Linked DNA regions of Homo sapiens: region 2 is reported to be linked to region 1. The links are microRNA targets in miRTarBase. Many come from high-throughput screens and were not tested one by one. Region 1 holds a microRNA gene; the other region holds the end of a gene's coding sequence.
The links. The annotated mature microRNA hsa-miR-6806-3p reads UGAAGCUCUGACAUUCCUGCAG and lies in region 1 at 2,080-2,101, shown strand. An mRNA with a match to its seed (bases 2 to 7 or 8) in the 3' UTR can be bound and repressed. Matches are read on the target gene's strand: a 7mer-m8 pairs with bases 2 to 8, a 7mer-A1 pairs with bases 2 to 7 and ends in A, and an 8mer does both.

Region 2: miRTarBase lists CDX1 as a target of hsa-miR-6806-3p. Seed matches in the 3' UTR shown: 7mer-A1 at 1,794-1,800.

The regions. Positions count from the first base shown.
Region 1 is chr19:58,332,651-58,338,048 of GRCh38, forward strand. It overlaps MIR6806 (microRNA 6806), which reads left to right and starts at 2,038; the gene lies at 2,038-2,101. ZSCAN22 (zinc finger and SCAN domain containing 22) reads left to right here. Exons shown (of 3, transcript NM_181846.3): 2 at 2,102-2,555. The coding sequence starts at 2,153.
Region 2 is chr5:150,183,267-150,186,266 of GRCh38, reverse strand. It overlaps CDX1 (caudal type homeobox 1), which reads right to left. Exons shown (of 3, transcript NM_001804.3): 3 at 1,709-2,793. The coding sequence ends at 2,587. Among named protein-coding and RNA genes, the nearest start is that of SLC6A7, 5.3 kb to the left of the region's middle. RefSeq lists an enhancer at 1-377.

The DNA of each region.
Region 1 (5,398 bases):
GTTTATGGTGAATAGTGTTCCATTATAGGTATATACAGCATTTTATCCATTCATCAGGTGGACATTTGGATTGTTTCTCCTTTTTTGCTGTTATGAGTAATGCTGTTATGCACATTTATGTATAAAGTTTTGTGAGGACATATACTCATTTCTCTTGGGTCTATACGTAGGAGTAGAATTGCTAGGTCATGGGGTAACTCTGTTTAAGCTTTTGAGGAACTCCCAGACTGTACTTCCCACAGTGGCTATCCCATCTTACATTCCCAGCAGCAGCATATGAGGATTACAGTTTCTCCATATCCTTGCCTACACATGTTATCTGATTATAGGCATCCCAGCAGGTGTGAAGTGCTATCTCATTGTGGTTTTCATTTGCAGTTCCCTGGTAGCTAGTGATGTTAAGCATCTTTTCATGTATTTATTGCCCATTTGTGTATCTTCCTTGGAGAAATGTCTAGTCACATTCTTTGCTCATTTTAAAATTGTATTATTCATCTTTTTACTATGGAGTTGTTCTAGATACAGGTCCCTTATCAAATATATGATTTGCAAATATTTTCTCCCACTCTGTGGGCTGCTTTTTTACTTTCTTGATGTGGTCCTTCAAATCACAAAAGCTTTTAATTTTGATAAAGTCCAGTTTATTTATTTTTTCTTTTGTTACTTATGCTTTTGGTGTCATAGCTAAGACAGCTTTGCATTATTTTCAAGTATTCATGGAACATTAACCAAAATTAACCATACACTGGGTCACAAACCAAGTTTCAGCAAATTTTAAATGATCGAAATCCATTGTAGCATGTTTTCTGACCACAACAGACTTAATCTAGACATCAGTAATAAAAAGACAACTAGAAAACCCCCAGTTGTTTGGCAATGAAGCAGGAGAGTTTTAAATAAATAACCAATGGGACTGGGCATGGTGACTCATGCTTGTAATCCCAGCACTCTGTGGGGCCGAGGCAGGCAGATCGCTTGAGGTCAGGAGTTCGAGACCAGCCCCGCCAACATGGCAAAACCCCGTCTCCACTAAAAATACAAAAATTAGCCTCACATGGTGGTGCACACCTGTAGTTCCAGCTACTTGGGAGGCTGAGGCAGGAGGATTGCTTGAACCCGGGAGGCGGAGTTGCAGTGAGCCGAGATAGCGTCACTGCCCTCCAGCCTGGGCGACAGAGGGAGACTCCGTCTCAAAAAAATAAAATAAATTTTAAAAAATAATTAATGAGTAAGGTAGAAATTGTAACAGAAATTAGAAAATATTTTTAACTAAATGATAATGAAGATACAACATATCAAACTTGTGATGTATAGCTAAAGCTGTGTTTAGAGAGAAATTTATAGCCTTAAATATGTGCATTAGAAAAGAGGAAAGGCGAAAGTCAATTATGTATCAATCTCAAACACTACAAAATAATTAGCAAGTAAAGTGAGAGAATGACCATGTGGCTACCTGGGGAACAGAGGGAGAAAGACTTGGCTCTGTTGGGGAGGAGCACGCCTTAAACAGGCTGGCTGTAGGTTTGCGTGGGTTTGTAGCTTAGCTCTCTGTTAACCCTTCACTAGCTGAGGGACTTTGGGCAAATATTTTCCTCCTGAGTGTCTGTTTTTCCATCCATAAAATAGGTAGAAAGTCCCACCTCCTGAGTTTGTTGTAAGTTTTTTGTTTGTTTGTTTTTGTTTTGAGACAGAGTCTTGTTCTGTTGCGCAGGCTGGAGTGCAGTGGCGTAGTCTCGGCTCACTGCAAGCTCCGCCTCCCGGGTTCACGCCATTCTCCTGCCTCAGCCTCCTGAGTAGCTGGGACCACAGGTGCCCGCCACCACGTCTGGCTAATTTGTTTTGTATTTTTAGTAGAGACGGGGTTTCACCATGTTAGCCAGGATGGTGTTTGTTGTAAGTTTTAAATGAGTCTACATGCAAGCAGTAGTAGCTTAGAACAGTGCTCAGCACCAAGTGGGTGCTGTCCTAATTATGAGGATTGTCTATGTCTTTGTGAGAGTCTTTCACATCTCACGGGCCACAAGCCTGTGTTTTCCCTGCTCTGTAGGCATGAGGCAGGGCCCAGGTTCCATGTGATGCTGAAGCTCTGACATTCCTGCAGGCCCAGTTCCAAGGCTCCGGCATCCTGTGTCTCACTGAGCACTGCTGCCCGATGGCCATCCCCAAGCACTCCCTGAGCCCAGTGCCGTGGGAAGAGGACAGCTTCCTTCAAGTGAAGGTGGAGGAGGAAGAGGAAGCCAGCCTCTCCCAGGGCGGAGAATCCAGCCATGACCACATTGCTCACTCTGAGGCTGCACGCCTGCGCTTCCGGCACTTCCGCTATGAGGAGGCATCTGGTCCACACGAGGCCCTGGCCCACCTCCGAGCGCTGTGCTGTCAGTGGCTGCAGCCCGAGGCGCACTCCAAGGAGCAGATACTGGAGCTGCTGGTGCTGGAGCAGTTCCTGGGTGCGCTGCCCCCAGAGATCCAAGCCTGGGTGGGAGCCCAGAGTCCCAAGAGCGGAGAGGAAGCCGCTGTGCTGGTGGAGGATCTGACTCAGGTGCTGGACAAGAGAGGTAAAGGGGCGCCGTGGGCAGCTTCACGGCACACCAGAGATACACCCTGGACAGGAACATGGGAGCACAGGGCTCTGGTTTGGGGTTGCTCATGCACCCATTCTCACATTTGTACTTTACCGTAACTCTCACACACTGTTGTAGACAGGTGTGTTTTGGTTGCAGGTGACCAAAAGCGAGCTGAAATGGGCTGAAGCAAAGAAGGGTAAGGAGGCAGCAGATACGGCTATATCCAGAAGATCTGTTGACAGCATCAGAACTCTCTTCTTCCTCTCTTGTTCTGTTTCTCAGTTGGTTTTTTCTGTGTTAGCTTCATTCTTATTTTAGGTTCTCTTTCCAAAGGGGTTAAAGATAGCCAGGAACCCCAGGCTTATGTCTTACCAATGTAGAAACCCCGGGGTAATAACAATAAGAGGTCCCTGGTCTGAGCCCCCACTGGCCTGGTTGGGATCTTATGTTTGTGTTTGGCCAACCAAATCCCAGGGACTAACAGTGAGCAACTGGCTGTTTCTCAGAGGAAACCAGACGAGGGCCTGGGTGCCTGGGGTGGCTGTTGGGGGTGACGGAAATACCAGATGTCCCTGTGTACCTTCTCTATGCCCACCCTGGGCTGGCCTCCAGGATTTGGGTGGGTCAGACCTGCCCCAGGCTCAGCTGGGCACTGTTACTCACAGAGACCCACACAAACATCCCAACCCAGGGAGGTCCAGTGGGATGCAGGGAAGACCCAGCCTTGGGACAATCCAGAGCAGGGAGTGGTGGCTCGTCTCAGATGGGCTTGGCCTGGCCTATTGGCAACAGATAGGAGGTGGGCATACCACACACTGGGAGGAAACGTGCAGTGTGCAGGAGGAATGTGGAGTCTGGATACAGCTGCATCATCAAGGCTCAGTAGATCCAACCGCTGCTGCTCTTCCTGGCCATGTGACTCCCTTGTGCCTCAGTTTACTCATGGGTAAAATGGGGATTGTAATAAAAACGCCCACCTTAGTGGTGTTGCGAGATACAAGGCAATACCCGTGCAGCACCTGAAATGGTGCCTGGCACAGATTAAATAAATGGTAACTGCAACTGTTAGGATAATTTGTTCAGCTCTGGGAGAAACAGGCCTCTCTGGAACAGAGGTTGGTCTATGCCCAAGCAGATGTCACAGAGACAGGGAGAGGAAGGAGGGAGTGGCCCCATCCTCCCACAGGGTTGGCCAAAGCTCAGAGAAAGGGTAAAATGCAGAGGGAATGGTGGGGTCAAAGGCCTGGCAGTGTGATTTGCACTGGTGTATTCTGGTAAAAGCAGGTGGTGTGATGTTTCTGGATAGAGGAAGGAAGGGGGAGACAGGGCCAAGCAGATGGCTGGGGGAGCAGGGGAGACTGCCTGTGGACCTGGAGGAGAACATTCTGGAGCTGAAATCCCAACTGGGCCACTAGCTAACTGTGATCCTGTACCAGTTACTCAACACCTTCCCTCAGCTGGATTTCAGTTTCCCCATCTGCAACAGAATCACAGCAGTACCTCCTTCTGAGAGCAGGTCGAAGCTGAAATGAGGCGATGGAAGTCACCCACTGTGCTTGGGGCCCAGCACGACAAGAGCCTGATAGTGGTTAGTGGCCCTGGAAGGCCAGCGGCACAGCATCCATGGCTTACAGATGGGGAGACTGAGTCCCAGATGAGGGCAGGACTGATTAAGGTGGTAGACCTGGGGTTTGAGTCCAGTTTCTGCACTGCTGAGCCCCACTGTGGACTTGAGCAGTGGGTATTCCACCTGTCTCTGCCTCCTCCCTGGAATCCATCCAGTAGATGTGCCAGATTATGTGTCCTTTGCACCCATGCAGGGCAGGTCAGTGCGAGCATTCCTCTACCTCATGCACACTCTGATCTCCAAGAGCACCTCCGCCACACTCTGCCTTCATAGTACTTTACAATGTAGGGGCTTGAGAGGCCAGATGGGTACCTCATGTACTCACCCCCAGCAGCCATATTCTACCTGGGGTTCTACTTGCAGAAATTTTCACCATCGTGGGCTTCTGGATGGATTCCCTCATTCAGCCAGAATTCACTGAGCACCTGTGGACACATCCAGGCCTAGAGGCAAGGTGTTGAGTGTGAGGGACAGAACCGCAACCTCACAGAGATCAGAGCCTGCAGGGGACACATCCAGGCCTAGACGCAAGGCGTTGAGTGTGAGGGACAGAACTCCAACCCCACAGAGATCAGAGCCTGCAGGGGACACATCCAGGCCTAGACGCAAGGTGTCGAGTGTGAGGGACAGAACTCCAACCCCACAGAGATCAGAGCCTGCAGGGGACACATCCAGGCCTAGACGCAAGGTGTCGAGTGTGAGGGACAGAACTCCAACCCCACAGAGATCAGAGCCTGCAGGGGACACATCCAGGCCTAGACGCAAGGTGTCGAGTGTGAGGGACAGAACTCCAACCCCACAGAGATCAGAGCCTGCAGGGGACACATCCAGGCCTAGACGCAAGGTGTCGAGTGTGAGGGACAGAACTCCAACCCCACAGAGATCAGAGCCTGCAGGGGACACATCCAGGCCTAGACGCAAGGTGTCGAGTGTGAGGGACAGAACTCCAACCCCACAGAGATCAGAGCCTGCAGGGGACACATCCAGGCCTAGACGCAAGGTGTTGAGTGTGAGGGACAGAACTGCAACCCCACAGAGATCAGAGCCTGCAGGGGTGCATGTGCTCAGGGTCCTGACAAGGACAGACCCTCCCTCTCTCTCTGTCTCCAGATCAGTTCCACATCAGGGTTTCTCCTCTTGACTCTTGAGCCAAAATTGGGAGCCTTGAAAGATGGCGAGTTTGGTGGGAGGAGGAGAAATCAGAACC
Region 2 (3,000 bases), not on the chromosome of region 1:
TGCCAGCCTCTCACACTGGGATGCAGCAGCAGCCCCGTGAGCAGGTGGCTCAAAAACAGGCACTTCTTATGTGCTGGGCCCTGAGCGAAACACAATTCTAAGCTCAGTTAGACTATTTTATTTCCATTTGACACATGCGGAGGCCGAGGCTCCAAGAAGCTAAGTAACTTGCCTGAAGTCTTGCAGTTTGGAAGTAGTCACGCTGAAATCCAGGCCATTTGACGACAAAACCTGCTGCTAAATACTGAGACACAGAGAAGGTGAGGCCCTCCAGCCTGAACATCCCAGCACTGCAGAGTGTGTGGAGTTCAGTGGGATGCTCGGAGGTGTGAGTAGGGGCCTCCTAGGTAGCAAAGCACGGGGAAGGCCAGATGAAAGAAAATTCAAGGGGTTTCTTTGCTGTGGGGCTTGTCAGAGACTTTGATGTGCTAATGGCCCACTGTGACTCTATCAGAGAAGTGGCTTCAGCAGGATTTCCCAAACTTACTTGACCAGAGTTATTTCTTTCTGGTAGACAACTTCCCCAAGTTTACAGATGGGGCAATGCGGGCCCAAAGAGGGGAAGCAGTTACCCTAGGGTCACAGAGCATATTTTTTTGAAGATCAGAAAACTCTATTCAGTCCGGGCCAGCCGCCTTTTCACCAGCCCCTCCCCCTCTACTCTTGGAACCCTGGTTCTTTCCCAAGCCTCAGGTGTCCACCATTACTAATGAATGCCCGCTGTCTCCCAGGCCACTGGTAGGAGGAGAGAGAGAAGTGCCTGCTGCACTTCAGGGGCCTGTGCCAGGCCAGGATCCACCTTGTGCACTGTTATCATGGGAGCAAAGGGCGATGTCAGGCAGGCTGTGCACACTTTTTATGGCCTGGCCACCTCCCAGAACAGTAAACAGAGGGGCAGGCAGCTGGCACCAGAGCCCCCGGGGAGAGAAGGCCCCGGGTAGTAGACTCCCGAGTTCAAAAAAAATTATACTTTCAGTCCATATTGCTCAAGTTCCTTTTCTCCTTTATTCCCTTCTTGGCCTGATCCATACTCGCTAGTCCTTTTCAGTCTCAGTTCAAACATTACCTACTCCAGGAAGCCTTCCAGGATAAGCTAGGCATGTGCTCTGCTCTCGTTGGATGCCCTGGCTCCCCTGACGCTCAGATTGGCCCTTATCCTGTTATATTAGTGTCATCTGTGTGCATAGCAGTCTTCCCCACTGGACTGGGGACTTCTGCAGAGCAATTCAGGACCCCTGAAGTCAGACCCTGAGGGGGGCTTTGTGGCTTCTCTCCTGCTCCAGCTGCCCAGACCACATGGACTCTGAATGCATTCTCCCCCTCTAGATCTTGCTCTCCTACCCTGGAGATGCCCTTCTCTGTAACCTTCCCCCTCCACATCTTCCCAAGACATGATCTCGCACCCCTTCTCCAGTCTAGGGGACAAGGACTGTGTGCTTCCCAGGCCCAGCCACGCGTAGCACATGGGGTGAGCAATGAATGTCATTATTGAAAGAAAAACCTGAACTGAACATATCTGAAAAATTCAAAAGACTGATATGTTGAGTCTGATGAATCTGCTTACAAAATGGACTCACATTTTTACGTAGTCTCATAGACCTAAACGAATGGTGTTCTGTTTTGATCTTTCAAATGTATTTTAAAGGTGACCTTGTTGTGGGCCTAAACAAACGGGAAAGGAATACACAATTGCTGGGGAAGGTGAGGATGATTTGTACTTCTCAAAAATGTTTCTTTAATGCTATGTATAATGATTTTTATACATTTTTGAAAAGAGAAGAAAAATTTATTCTTGAAGCTGCATCCAAGAGATTCCACTCTATATACAACACCTGTCCAGCTGTGAGCTCTGCTTGGTCCGAATAAAGTCCTCTGGGGGCTCCCTGGGCCCTGATGGGCAGCCTGGCGGGGGTGTAGAAACCTGGTAGGGAAGACTCTGCCCCCTTCTCTCCTCCCAGGGCCTCCCTCTCAATCCAGAGCCCTCACTGAGAATGATCATGAGGGCTGTGATTCTGTAACCCAGTGGAGCAGCCATCAGAGCCCAGTGCTATGGGCTTTGTGCTTAGTATCCAGCCTGGGAAGGGCTCAGTGCCCTTATGATGGGGGCAGGTAGAAGTGAGGCTGCAGGAAGAGGCAGGTGTGAGTTGACCACGTTCCTCCCTCCTCAGGTCATGCTCTGCAAGCATTCCATCTTTTTCAGCTCCATCCCTTTTCTCCAGGATCAGTGTGGTCCCCACAGCAGCCTCCAGCTGCACCTCTGAACGTATGGAGGAGGAGGTGGGGCCTGGAGCCTTGTCTAGGCCCCTCCCCCAACCATTTGGGGCTTGAGATGCCCACGGGAGATTGAGATCATCCACCCTGGACTCCCTTATCCCCCAGAGGTCTAGAACACAGGAGCTGGAAGGTCTTTATCCAACAGGCTTACTGCACAGATGGGCCAAGGGGATGCAGAGGGTGGATAGGTGACTGTCCACCATGTCCCAGAAGGTCAGGGCTGAGACTCGGACCAGACCTCCTGGGCCCACAGGAGCCACACTCCCAGCACCCGAGTCCCCAGGTCCCCCGGCGCACAGGCTGGGCATGGGGCTATGGCAGAAACTCCTCTTTCACAGGCATTGGAGAGGAGGTGGCCAGGAGGCTGGTGTTGCTGGGACACAGGCCCCCCAGGGATGGCCCGGCTGGGGTGGCCGTGATGTCGTGGGCCATCGGCGGCTGTGGGGGCTGTTGCTGCTGCTGTTTCTTCTTGTTCACTTTGCGCTCCTTTGCCCGCCGGTTTTGGAACCAGATCTTCACCTGTGGGGTTGGAGGACAGAGATGGAGTGGGCAGCAGGGAGAGAGTGAAAGAGAGAGTGCAAGAAGGAGAGACGAGGACAGTGAGCCCCTATTTCTCCATGTGGCTTTGTGGCTTATCTCCTCTCCAGCCTCCCAGACCACATGGACCCTGAATTCATTCTCCCCCTCTAGACATTGCACCCCTACCCTGGAGATGCCCTTCTTTGT